4 linked regions of the Homo sapiens genome follow. The gene in region 3 interacts genetically with the main gene of each other region. Each region holds a gene or a part of one and is shown on either strand. Other genes may lie near its edges.

Region 1 (3,500 bases), on a different chromosome or scaffold from region 3:
AGATTTTTACTTAGGATGTACAGCTTTCAGATTTGTAGGCAAGGAAAATGAAATTTTCTTTCAAAATAGGGTTTAAACATAGATAGGTTTTAAAAATAAAATCTCCTACTTTCTAGAAGACACATACACTGAAACACCAGAAACATTTGGAACATCAGTTTCCTCTATGTGTTGCTGGTCAAAGACTCAACCTCTTTTTTCTTTCTTTTCCTTAAAAGGTAACCCCTAAACACAGCTAAAACTATGCCATCAGCTGACTCCAAGGTACACACAGTCCTGTATCTGGAACTACTGAGTGGCAGGCATCTTTCTCTGCCTCTGACAGTGGAGTCCCCATCACTGCAGAGCATAGCCAAAGGAGTCAAAGGTCTCAGCGGGTCACTGCCTTATCAACCCTCACCAGTCCCTTATGTTTTTTAATATTTTATAATCTTGACATGACACCAAGATGCTTTAATAAAAAAGCACCTCTAACTCGGTCTTGTATTCACTTACCTTGAGCCTGGGACTTCTCTAGGCTCCTGAGGCAAAAACAGGTAGAGGGGAGATGGTGGAACATAAAACACAATTTTGCTTGGCACCCACCTTGGCGTCTGTCCCCATGACCAGGTCTTTCAATTCGATGATTTTGTCATTGATGGAGGAGCGATATCGTTTCTCAATGATATTATGGGTTGTCCGCCTTTCTCCTTCTTTGGGGGGCTCAAGCTGCTTGACTCCCCCAGGTACCTGCTTAATGGGCACTTTCTCTTGCCCCATCATTACAGGCATTGTGGTCAGAATGGTCCCACTGCTGCCCACCAGGGTCTAGAATAGGGACAGGTACACAGCAGAATGATCCCTTTGTTAGTCTGCATAAAGCAACCTCAACACAGACCTGCCCGCTTTGGCCAAGTGCTGCCAGACCTGGCAGTACTTCATGAGGTCTGAGACTCTTCCTGGGTTAATCAAATCAGGCCCCAAGAAGTCTCAGGAGCCACGGAACCTTGGTTACTACCTCCCTTCAAGAATCACTGCTGATAAACTACACCACAAGAGGATTAACATGGCTAAATATGTTTTAAGTTTTGATCTACGTATGCCAGAAACAAGTCATATGATTTCTGCTTTGCTGTCAAACTGTTAACCACTTCTAAAGTTGTACACGGTGAACCACGAGTTGGCACCAGAGAAAACTTTCTCCTAGTGTATGACACATTTTTTCCTCTCAAATGACAATTAAGCAAATTACTGCATTTCTTTATACAATTTTGCCATCAAAAAGCTCAAGGGCAGAAGTGACACTCTCAATAAGAGCCATTTGATTAAGTAAATAGGCCAACCATGGAGGTCTCCCCTTTTTATTCTTCATCTCTGTTTTCTCCTCTTATTTTTTCTAACTTTATTTTATTTTATTTTATTTTTTTTGAGACGGAGTTTCGCTCTTGTTGCCCAGGCTGGAATGCAATGGTGTGATCTCGGCTCACCACAAACTCTGCCTCCCAGCTTCAAGTGATTCTGCTGCCTCAGCCTCCCGAGTAGCTTGGATTACAGGCATGCGCCACCATGCCTGGCTAATTTTGTATTTTTAGTAGAGACGGGGTTTCTCCATGTTGGTCAGGCTGGTCTCAAACTGCTGACCTCAGGTGATCCACCCGCCTTGGCCTCCCAAAGTGCTGGGATTACAGGCGTGAGCCACCACGTCCTGTTTTTTTGTTTTTGTTTTTTTTTTTGAGACAAAGTCTCACTCTGTTGCCCAAAAGCTGGAGTGCAGTGGCGTGATCACAGCTTACTACAACCTGCACCCCCCTGGTTCAAGTGATTCTCCTGCCTCAGCCTCCTGAGTAGCTGGGAATACAGGCACCCACCACCACACCTGGCTCATTTTTGTATTTTTAGTAGAGATGGGATTTCATCATGTTGGCCAGGCTGATCTCAAACTACTGACCTCAGGTGATCTGCCCACCTCAGCCTCCCAAAATGCTGGGAATACAGGCGTGAGCCACTGGGCCTGGACCAATTTTAGTTTAATTTCTTAAATAATGGCCTCAATATCTAATCAGCCAATAAATAAATAAAAAGGTGCCCAATTTCATTAGTTGCCAATAAGTACGTCATGCACAATAAAAACCACAAATCTTAAGTTTATAGCTTGATGAATTTTACATATGTACACAATGTATATAACCACCCAGACCAAGATATAGCCCATTTCTACCAGCTCAGAAAGTCCCCGCATGCCCCTCCCCTCCTTGTCACCACCGCTCTGAATTCCAGCACCATAGCTTCATTTTGCCTCTTTTTAAACTTCATATAAATGGACTCATTAGCATGAACTCCTTTGGCTTGACACACTATTTCTTTTTTTTTTTTTTTGAGACGGAGATTTGCTCTGTCGCCCGGGCTGGAGTGCAGTGGCGCAATCTTGGCTCACTGCAAGCTCCACCTCCCAGGTTCACGACATTCTCCTACCTCGGCCTCCCGAGTAGCTAGGACTACAGGTGCCCGCCACCATGCCCGGCTAATTTTTTGTATTTTTAGCAGAGACGGGGTTTCACCATGGTAGCCAGGATGGTCTCGATCTCCTGACCTCATGATCTACCCACCTCGGCCTCCCAAAGTGCTGGGATTACAGGTGTGAGCCACTGCGCCCGGTGGCTTGACACACTATTTCTGAGGGACAGCCCCATGTTGTTTCATGCATCAGTAGCTTTTTTTTTTTTTTTTGAGAGTCAGTCTCGTTCTGTCATCCAGGCTGGAGTGCAGTGGTGCGATCTCGGCTCACTGCAGCTTCCACCTCTCAGGTTCAAGCAATTCTCCTGCCTCAGCCTCCTGAGTAGCTGGGATTACAGGCATGCACCATGCACCACCATACCCAGCTAATTTTTGTATTTTTAGTAGAAATGGGGTTTCACCGTGTTGGCCAGGCTGGTCTCAAACTCCTGACCTCAGGTGATCCACCCCTCTTGGCCTCCCAAAGTGCTGAGATTACAGGCGTGAGCCACCGTGCCTGTCAGCAGTTCTGTTTTTTAATTGCTAGGCATAATTTCATTGTATGAATATATCACAATGTGCTTATTTTCCTGTGGATGGACATTTGAGTTGCTTCCAGTTCTTGGATTTTATGAATAAAGCTAGTGCTTCTAAATTTTAATCACCATTTACTCTATCAGATTCTCATGCTATAGGATGCTGAAAGTGGCTAAGAACCTACAACTGAAGGATGGGGTACCTTCCATGTTCTTCACCTTGGAGCCCTTCCCTGCCTGGTGGCCCTAGGGTCCTTCAGAAGTCATCAGCAGGATCTAAGAGGTGAATGGTCTTGTGTGGAGCTATTAGCCAAGAATAGAGGGTCCTTCTGCTATTCTTTTCTACCTCCTTGTAGACTCCAGTACTCCCACATCGAACACACATTGCTAATACTTTTTCGAGCGAAAAACAACTAAGAGGGGTGACATTTACAATTTGACTGATTTGTGCTATAGACCCTCCCATACCTACTCAGCATATAGAGATTTAAC
Region 2 (3,500 bases), on a different chromosome or scaffold from region 3:
TGAGCCGAGATCGTGCCACTGCACTCCAGCCTGGGAGACAGAGTGAGACTCCGTCTCAGAAATAATAATAATAATTAGCCAAGCGTGATGGTGCGCACCTGTAGTCCCAGCTACTCAGGAGGCTGAGGTGGGAGGACTGCTTGAGCCCAGGAGGTCAAGGCTGCAGTGACCTGAGATGGCACCAACTGCACTTTAGCAGTGCCACAATCACAGCTCACTGCAGACTTGAACTTCTGGGCTGAAGTGATCCTCTTGCCTCACCTCCCAAGTAGCTGGGACTACAGGCACCCACCACCATACCTGGCTGGTTTCTATTTATTTAATTTATTTTAAAGACAGGGTCTCACTGTTGGTAAAAGAGTGAGACCTTATCTCATTAAAATAAAATAAAATAAAATAAAAAGGCTGCTGATGTACCCTAAGAAAAACTTTAAAAAGAAAGAAAAAAAGGGCCGGGAGCGGTGGCTCATGCCTGTAATCCCAGCACTTTGGGAGGCCAAGGTGGGTGGATCACCTGAGTGAGGTCGGGAGTTCGAGACCAGCCTGACCAACATGGAGAAACCCCATCTCTACTAAAAATACAAAATTAGCCAGGCGTGGTGGCACATGCCTGTAATCCCAGCTACTAGGGAGGCTGAGGCAAGAGAATCGCTAGAACCCAGGAGGCAGAGGTTGCAGTGAGCCGAGATCACGCCATTGCACTCCAGCCTGGGCAATAAGAGCGAAACTCTGTCTCAAAAAATAAAAAAATAAAGAAATAAAATAAAGAAAAAAAGGCCAGGCATGGTGGCTCAAGCTTATAATCCCAGCACTTTGGGAAGCTGAGGTGGGCGGATCGCCTGAGGTCAGGAGTTTGAGACCAGCCTGGCCAACATGGCAAAACCCCATCTCTACTAGAAATATTAAAATTAGCCGGATTATACCGGCAGGCGGGTATAATCCCAGCCACTCGGAAGGTTGACACAGGAGAATTGCTTGAACCCGGAGGGCGGGGGTTGCAGTGAGCCGAGACTGCGACACTGCACTTGAGCCTGGGCAAGAGTGACACTTCACTCCAGCCTGGGTGAAAAAAAAAAAAAAAGAAAAAAAGATAATAGTGTTTTGTTAAGGGAAACCTAGCCTTTTTTTTGGAGACAGGGTCTTGCTAGAGTGTCCCCAGGCTACAGTGCAGTGGCATGATCATAGCTCACGGTTCCTTGACCTCCTGCAGCCTCTTGAGCAGCTGGAACTACAGGTATACAACACCACAACCACACTGGCTATTTTTTTATTTTTCTTTTGTAGAAATGGGTATTGCTATGTTGACAAGGCTAGTTTTGAACTCCTGGCCTCAAGCAATGCTCCAGCTTCAGAGCTGGTGCTGAATCCTAGAATTTTTGATATAAGGTGGCTTCTAGTTATGAATTTTTTTTTTTCAAGATGGAGTTTCGCTGTTGTTGCCCAGGCTGGAGCGCAATGGCACAGTCTCAGCTCACTGCAAGCTCCGCCTCCCAGGTTCAAGCGAGTCTCCTGCCTCAGCCTCCTGAGTAGCTGGGATTACAGGCATGCACCACCACGCTCAGCTAATTTTCATATTTTTAGTAGAGACAGGGTTTTTCCATGTTGGTAAGGCTGGTTTTGAACTCCTGACCTCAAGTAATCCACCCACCTCAGCCTCCCAAAGTGCTGGGATTACAGGCGTGAGCCACTGCGCCCAGACTTGTTCTGAAATTTGAAAATTCTGTGTCTCCAGGGTGGAAACATCACACACCGGGGCCTGTCCTGGGGCGGGGGTAGCGGGGAGGGATAGCATTAGGAGATACACCTAATGTAAATGACGAGTTAATGGGTGCAGCACATCAACATGGCGTTATGTATACATATGTAACAAAACTGCAAGTTGTACACATGTACCCTAGAACTTAAAGTATAATAATAATAAAAAAAACAAAATTCTGGTCTCCCTTGTTTTTTGAGACAGGGTCTCACTCTGTCACCAGGCTGCAGTGCAGTGGCACAATCTTGGCTCACTGCAACGTCCGCCTCCCTGGTTCAAGCGATTCTCCTGCCTCAGCCTCCCAAGTAGCTGGGATTACAGGCACCTGCCACCATGCTCAGCTAATTTTTGTATTTTTAATAGAAACAGAGTTTCACTATATTGGCCAAGCTGGTCTCCAACTCCTAACCTCGTGATCCGCCCACCTCGCCCTCCCAAAGTGCTGGGATTACAGGCATGAGCCACCGCACCCTGCCTATTCTGTGTCTCTCTTAAGTAATTATTCCCCTCCCAAACCACCAACTCCAAAGGCAACGGAATAAAACAAGACATGGCTCAGAGAGAAGAGATGGGCTCGGCCAGGTGCGGTGGCTCACACCTGTAATCCTAGCACTTTGGGCAGCCAAGGCGAGTGGGTCACTTGAGGTCAGGAGTTCAAGACTAGCCTGGCCAATATGGTGAAACCCCATCTCTACTAAGAATACAAAAATTAGCTGGGTGTGGTGGTGGGCACCTGTAATCTCAGCTACTCGGGTGGCTGAGGCAGGAGAATTGCTTGAACCCAGGAGGCGGAGGTTGCAGTGAGCTGAGATTGCACCACTGCACTCCAGCCTGGGCAACAGAGCGAGGCTCTGTCTCAAAAAAAAATAGTGATAGGCAGATAGGCTCCTATACACGAAGGGACATAATTTTGAGCTAATTGAGAACTGAGGCATCTTGTATCCTGCCTCATCCTTGTGCGGCAATATCCCAACCACCGCATGCCAGGTCCCACTTCCAAGTCAGCCCTACATGAATAGAGGATGCAGATAGATCCTGGAGAACCTCAGGCCACTTCTCTTATATCTGAGACCTAGATGGCCCGCCAAGTTCCAGAAACATTTAACGAATTCTCAGGATCAGGATGCCTAGCAATGGCTAGCTGACCTCAGACAAAGAGGTTACAGGGAACGGCCAGGCGCGGTGGCTCACGCCTGTAATCCCAGCACTTTGGGAGGCCAAGGCGGGTGGATCACGAGGTCAGGAGATCGAGACCATCCTGGCTGACATGGTGAAACCCTGTCTCTACTAAAAACACACAAAAAATTAGCCGGGCGTGGTGGCGGGTGCCTATAGTCCCAGCTACTCGGGAGGCTGAGGCAGGAGAATGGCGTGAACCCGGGAGGCGGAGCTTGCAGTGAGCCGAGATCGCGCCACTGCACTCCAGCCTGTGAGACAGAGTACGACTCCATCTCAAAAAAAAAAAAAAGAAGTTACAGGGAACTTCTAGAGGTTGGAATGAGAGGGAGGGACCTGAATTCCTCCTACTCTTGAGTAACGTTGGAGAAGGAAAAGTATCTTTTTGTCCCTGAAGAAAACCCTTGTGATCACTGGGCAATTGTTCACATCTGTAATCCCAGCACTTTGGGAGGCTGAGGTGGGAGTATCGCTTGAACTCAGGAGTTTGAGACCAGCCTGGGCAACATATGGAGATGACATCACTGCAAAAAATAAAAATAAGGCCGGACGTGGTGGCTCACGCCTG
Region 3 (2,803 bases):
AGACGGAGTCTTGCTCCATCACCCAGGCTGGAATGCAGTGGCACGATCTCGGCTCGCTGCAACCTCTGCCTCCAGGGTTCAAGCGATTCTCTTTCCTCAGCCTCCCGAGTACCTGGCATTGCAGGCGCGCGCCACCACACCCGGCTAATATTTATATTTTTAGTAGAGACGGAGTTTTGCCATGTTGGCCAGGTTGGTCTTGAACTCCTGACCTCAGGTGATCCGCCCACCTCGGCCTCCCAAAGTGCTGGGATTACAGACATGAGCCACCGTGCCCGGCCCAGGGAGCTCTTAATACATATTAACTGTTACTGCTTCTTAGGATGTTAATAAGTTCTTTCCTTATGTAGGCCCTTAGGGCCCGTTTCTGAATGGCCTATGTGTAAATACAAGGACTTAACACAAGGCTATGGCCCATTCCTTGCTCTCCAGGAGTCAAATCTCGGCGATTTTGCATCAGTGGCAGCCTAAGCGTTACAGCAGGAAAGAACTCCACAAAGTGTCTCACGCTTCATTTAATCTGAAGAATATTACAGGCTCTCCGTCTTCAGATATAAATTATTTATAACGTTACAGAACAAGCAGCGAATTCAACCACTTAAGAACTAAGGAAGTCTACATGGTGTTAATTGCTGGCCACAGTCCTCCCGATCTGGTTTTTTAAAAAAGTCCCCCGGGCCCCCATTTCAGTAGACGTGCACCATGCCGTAGAGGAACGTCCAGAACAGGACGTAGGTGAAGAGGCCCCCGATGAGGCCTCCTGTAAAGAGAGGTCTCCGTGATTTGAAATATTTGTTCCACCTCCTTCCCGCCTTGAGAATGAGGAGCAGGGAGAGCAGGACGGAGGCGAGCAGGTAGAAGATGAAGCCGTAGAGGCCGGTGAGGCCGAGGATGCCGGCCGTGGCCCCCGACAGCGCTGACACCGAGGTCCGGCAATAATCCAGGACGGCGGCGTTGCCCCGCACGGCCGCCTCGCTGATGAACGGCGGCCCTTCCCGCTTGGCCACCACCGCGGCCATCGCACCAGCCCGGGCTCGGCCTCTCGCTTTCTCGCGGAACAACGCGGAGCTGCGGAGAAAACCAAGTTACAAGTGGCGCCCGGAGCTCGGTGAGTTGGGTTCACGCCGCCCCCTCCCCCTGGAGCTTCCGAGACCTGGCACCAGTCCTGGGCCTCGGATCTTCCAAAGACGCCGAGGAGATTGAGGGTCCGGGCCGGCCGGGAGGTGGTGGCGCGTCTGCGTTCCCCGGCCACGGTGGCCCAGTTACCTGGAACACGGCGCCGGACACACTACTTAGCGTTCCCTCAGACGGGCAGTGGAAGAAATGCCCGCGGCGCCATCTTGCTCGGAAGACTGCCGGGAGGTCTCGGGCTGCGCACGCGCCCAGATCCCGCCCCGCCCTCCGCGCCTGCGCCGTGGGCGCCCCGGACACGCTCCGCCCTCTGCCCGCTTTTCTGCGCACGCGCAGGGACTTCCGAAAGCGGAGTGGCGCTCCGGCCAGTGATTGGCTGGAGGTTTGTTAACTATTCATGAGGGGGCGGGCCGAGCGGGGCGGCCTTTGTTAAGCAGCGAGGGCGCGACCGCGGGTACTCTGCTGCCGGCTTCTCGGAGCGGCGCTGGGCGACCAGAGCAGGGTCGAGATGTCCTACATCCCGGGCCAGCCGGTCACCGCCGTGGTGGTGAGTGCGCTTGCGCGGGCTCCTCCTCGTCTTGGCCTGACCCCACCTCGCAGAGCGGGAAACGGACACCCCAAGCAGGTTGACAGAGCATCGAACCCGGGGCTCCTGCGAACCGGCGGCAAGGGCTCGGGTCCCCGCTTTGCCGGAGCGGGCCGCAGTTCCCCCAGCCACGAAACAGGGATGGCCGGGACCCGAGAGCCTCCCGAGACCCTGGACAGAGCCCAGACTGCGTGCGCAGGGCGGGGAGGGCCACGGGGAAAGGCCTGGCTGCAGGAGCCTGGAAAAGCGCCCCCTTCCCGGGCCTCCGTGTCCCCAGACGGGGAGCTGCTGGGGGCGGGCGCCGATCCCGACGTCCATGAGTCGCAGCCTCTGGAATGAGGAAATGCTTCCTCCGCTGCAGCCTGCGCCGCCGCCCGGAGGGAGATCTGGGGGTGGGGCTCTCCCGAGCCTGCCGTGGCAGCCCCTGCCCCCTTCCTGTCCAGCCTTGCTCCTCCAACCCACTCGCCGCCTGGTCCAGGGTGGACGCTCGTATAGCTGCGATGAGCGTTTCCTCTTCGAACTTTTCCTGGGTCTCCAGCCCTTAAGGCAAAAAAGTCCAGGCCTCCCTCCTGGCACTTGAGTCCTGAGTAGACCCTCCGGGGGCTAGCCTAGGCCCCTGGCCGCCCTCTGGCTTGTTTTAGGTGCTGGGTGCTATTAGACTAGGCAGAGGGAGGAAGGAAGGCTGGGACGTTAGACTCAGACGCCGGTGTCACAGAGGGACACAACCCTATGACAGAGGTGGGGAGTCCCAGAGAGAAGTGCTCAGCCAGAAAAGACCACCTCAGGAAAGACTCAGGTCTCCTGCCTACCTCCCGACAGCGTTCAGAGAATGAGAAGAAATGCCTGCCCGGTGGGCAGTAGGTCAAGCGAAAGTCCCCGCCCTGGAGCCATAGGGACTGGGTGTGTTATCTCAGTTGGGTGTGCTGGAGAAGCTCCAGCAATCAGGTGGGTGGAGGCAGAGAAGCCACTGATAAAGGCGACAAGTGAGGCTGAGCTTAGAGCACTGGCTCAGGCCTGGGCCAGGAGGAAACATTGCTGGACCAGCTGACAGCTGTCCTAAGCTTCACCCTCCCTGCACCAGCTTGA
Region 4 (3,500 bases), on a different chromosome or scaffold from region 3:
AGATTTGTACCTGAGTAAGGGGAGAAGAGAAACTCCTCAGGAGGGCAATGCACATCCTGAGCCCTCCCTCGCTGTCCAGACATGGTTCGCGCTGTCCCTCACCTCCCCTCACCTCTTTTCAGTGAATCTGACAAGATCCACATTGCCCTGGGGGGCTGTGAGGAGGTCCAGGGTCTGCCCAATCTCAGTCTGATAGGAACTCTAAGCAAGACAAAGACGGTCCATGAGCCAGGCTTTCTCCAGATATGCGAAACCCTGGTATCCCAAGCCCAACATCCCATACCAGCTGACAACTGGGCAGAATCAGAAAGGCAACAGAAGGGGAGAAAGCCCCAAAACTTAAGGCCCATATTCATACACACAGTCCTTTATCACCCTTTCTTCCAATTACACAGGACAGAGAAGCCCTTTCTTGCCACTACCACAACCCCACTTCCCAACACCCTTCCTCGCTTTCTTTCCCTTCCAGGCACGCTGCAATCCTGTACCCTGAAACCAGCTAGATGAGCATGTCCTATAGAGGCCAAGGCTACCATGGGCACCCTCTGGGCATCGGGCCCTGTCTGCAATACACCTGCAGGAAGAGCTCGATCAGGTTCAGGTAATAGGGCTGCTCCCGGCAATAGAGCTTCAGCAGGCGGTAGATACATGCTTCCAGGAGGTTAGCATCATTGATGGCATCCAAACCCACGCCCGGCTGTCATGACAGACAGAAAAACAAGCAATCAATCTCTAGTCTCGGTTCATACTAAGAGCCATCACCCCAACACCTCAACCAGGCCATATATAACCACCTCCCTGTGGCCTGTCCCCATACCCACTGCTATTTTCCTGCCCACATTACCTTCTGATACCAGCAGATCTGTCCCCGGCGGGTAAGGGATGAATCCATGATGTCATCTGCCACCAGGAAGAAAGCTTGCAGCTAGAAAGAGTGGAATAAGACCTGCAGGGCTCCTCATTACTGTTCCTTCTATCAGCAACAGAGCTGCTACTTTATATCTGTATATAGTTTTGCTTTTTTTTGGTAGGGGACAGAGTCTCACTATTATCCAGTGCAGTGGTGCAGTCACAGCTCACTGTAGCCTCTAACTCCCAGGCTCAAGTGATCCTCCCACTTCAGCTTCCTGAGTTCCTGAGACCATAGGCACATACCCCATGCCTGGCTATTTTTTTTTTTTAATTTATTTTTTGTAGAGACAGGGTCCCACTATGTTGCTCAGGCTGGTTTTGAACCCCTGGGTTCAAATGATCCTCCTGCCTCAGCCTCCCAAATTACTGGGATTACAGGCATGAGGCATCACAGCCGGCCAGAGCTGCTGCCTTTGACAGTCCCTATGAGCTGGGAAAGTCAGGATGGGGAGACAGAAGACTTCTGTGCTATGGAGACTTGGAAAGTGACATAACATGTTTGGCTCAGACTCCCCGCCTATAAAATGGAACTAAAACACTCTTGTTTTAGGTTAAGAAACTAGAACAGATCTTTGACATCTCTAATGAGCCCTAGATTATTCCTGGTGTCAGGGAGATTAGGAAACACCTTCATATACCGTACTCTATTCTTGCCAAAAACCTCAATGAATGCTTAAAGTAAGATCTATTCATGAAACTGACTTCACATTACTTCCTAAATAAAAGAAGGCTATTCCCACATTGCCCCCAGCACTGTGTTTGAACACCCTGGTGACTAGGAACACAGCCTTACCTAAAGCAGCTCCTTAGCAGTGCAGGTCTAATAAGGTGGAACTGAAATCTGACTTTGACCTATGAGTCTCAGACATCTTTAAACATCTTTAAACATTAACTAAGGGCTTACTCTTCTGAGTGCCCATCTGAAGGTACCTGAACGTGTCGGGTTTCCCACTAGACCATGATCTCCTTGGAAGCAGGGACAGTAACTTCCCCCTCTTAGCATTTGCAGAGCCTAGCACAGCATTAGGCCTGGAGTGAGAGTTTCCTAAACACTTGTCTGACAAAGAAATTAATAAAACACTCTAACATTCCCTGTGATACTTCTTGCAGTCAGTCAAACTATGTTTTGGTTCCTTAAATAGCTTTTCTTTTTTTTTTTTTTTGAGATAGAGTCTCACTCTATCACCCAAGCTGGAGTGCAGTGGCGCCATGTGGGTTCACTGTAACCTCCGCCTCCCAAATTCAAGCGATTCTCCTGCCTCAGCCTCCCAAGTAGCTGGGACTACAGGCACCTGCCACCACCAACTGCTAGGCCAGCTAATTTTTGTATTTTCATTCAGTAGAGACTGGGTTTTGCCATGTTGGCCAGGCTGGTCTTGAACTCCTGACCTCAAGTGATCCGCCTGCCTCGGCCTCCCAAAGTGCTGGGATTACAGGCGTGAGCCATCGTGTCTGACCATTAAATAGCTTTTCAAGACATGGTTTGGGTTGCTTTTTTAAAGAGACAAGGGTCTTGTCATGTTGCCCAAGTTGGACTTGAACTCCTGGGCTCAAGTGATCCTCCTGTCTCAACTCTTGAGAATCTAGGGATATAGGCACACACCAGCGCACCCAGCTCAAGACATGGTTTTTATTTTCATAACTTATTTCCTTTTTTTGTTTTTCCACTTCTAGATACATACCCAGGTTTTTGTTTTTGAGATGGAGTTTCACTCTCATTGTCCAGGCTGGAGTGCAATGGCGCAATCTCGGCTCACTGCAACCTCCGCCTCCCGGGTTCACGCGATTCTCCTGCCTCAGCCTCCCAAGTAGCTGGGATTACAGGCACGTGCCATCACACCCGGCTAATTTTTGTGTTTTTAGTAGAGACAAGGTTTCACCATGTTGGTCAGGCTGGTCTCGAACTCCTGACCTCACGTGATCCATCCACCTTGGCCTCCCAAAGTGCTGGGATTTTAAGTGTGAGCCAATGCACCCGGCCCTATACCCAGGTTTTAATTTTTATTATTATTTTCTTTTGAGACAGGATCTCACTCTGTCACCCAGGCTTGAGCAGAAGACATGGTTTGTGTGTTTTTTTTTTTTTGAGATGGAGTTTCGCTCTTGTTGCCCAGGCTGGAGTGCAATAGCGCGATCTTGGCTCACTGCAACCTCCGCCTCCCGGGTTCAAGCGATTTTCCTGCCTCAGCCTCCTGAGTAGCTGGGATTATAGGCATGTGCCTCCACGCCTGGCTAATTTTTTTTTTGTTTTTTGTTTTTTGTTTTTTTTTGAGACAGAGTCTCGCTCTTGTTGCCCAGGCTGGAGTGCAGTGGCACAATCTCAGCTCACTGCAAGCTCCGCCTCCCAGGTTCACGCCATTCTCCTACCTCAGCCTCCCAAATAGCTGGGACTACAGGCGCCTGCCACCATGCCCGGCTAATATTTTTTTTGTATTCTTAGTAGAGACGGGGTTTCACCATGTTAGCCAGGATGGTCTCGATCTCCTGACTTCATGATCCGCCCGCCTCAGCCTCCCAAAGTGCTGGGATTACAGGCATGAGCCACTGCGCCCAGCCTAATTTTGTATTTTCAGTAGAGATGGGGTTTC

What was found. A genetic interaction does not mean that the proteins touch.
Region 1: changes in EMC6 (region 3) and SREBF2 together harm fitness more than expected from each alone (negative genetic interaction), as found in Homo sapiens cells (one large-scale study listed by BioGRID).
Region 2: changes in EMC6 (region 3) and NUTF2 together harm fitness more than expected from each alone (negative genetic interaction), as found in Homo sapiens cells (one large-scale study listed by BioGRID).
Region 4: changes in EMC6 (region 3) and FDPS together harm fitness more than expected from each alone (negative genetic interaction), as found in Homo sapiens cells (one large-scale study listed by BioGRID).

The regions. Positions count from the first base shown.
Region 1 is NC_000022.11:41,871,105-41,874,604, reverse strand, and holds part of SREBF2 (sterol regulatory element-binding protein 2), read right to left. Parts: intron 808-3,500; coding exon 586-807; intron 1-585.
Region 2 is NC_000016.10:67,849,933-67,853,432, reverse strand, and holds part of NUTF2 (nuclear transport factor 2), read right to left. Parts: intron 1-3,500. UniProt on the Homo sapiens protein: Mediates the import of GDP-bound RAN from the cytoplasm into the nucleus which is essential for the function of RAN in cargo receptor-mediated nucleocytoplasmic transport.
Region 3 is NC_000017.11:3,667,363-3,670,165, reverse strand, and holds EMC6 (ER membrane protein complex subunit 6), read right to left. Parts: upstream 1,355-2,803; 5' UTR 1,267-1,354; exon of another isoform or gene 1,154-1,266; intron 1,109-1,153; exon of another isoform or gene 1,069-1,108; 5' UTR 1,020-1,068; coding exon 687-1,019; 3' UTR 501-686; downstream 1-500. Other genes in the region: TAX1BP3 (tax1-binding protein 3), read left to right, coding at 1,640-1,678.
Region 4 is NC_000001.11:155,315,366-155,318,865, reverse strand, and holds part of FDPS (farnesyl pyrophosphate synthase), read right to left. Parts: intron 2,013-3,500; exon of another isoform or gene 926-2,012; coding exon 845-925; intron 698-844; coding exon 575-697; exon of another isoform or gene 470-574; intron 202-469; coding exon 113-201; intron 11-112; coding exon 1-10. UniProt on the Homo sapiens protein: Key enzyme in isoprenoid biosynthesis which catalyzes the formation of farnesyl diphosphate (FPP), a precursor for several classes of essential metabolites including sterols, dolichols, carotenoids, and ubiquinones.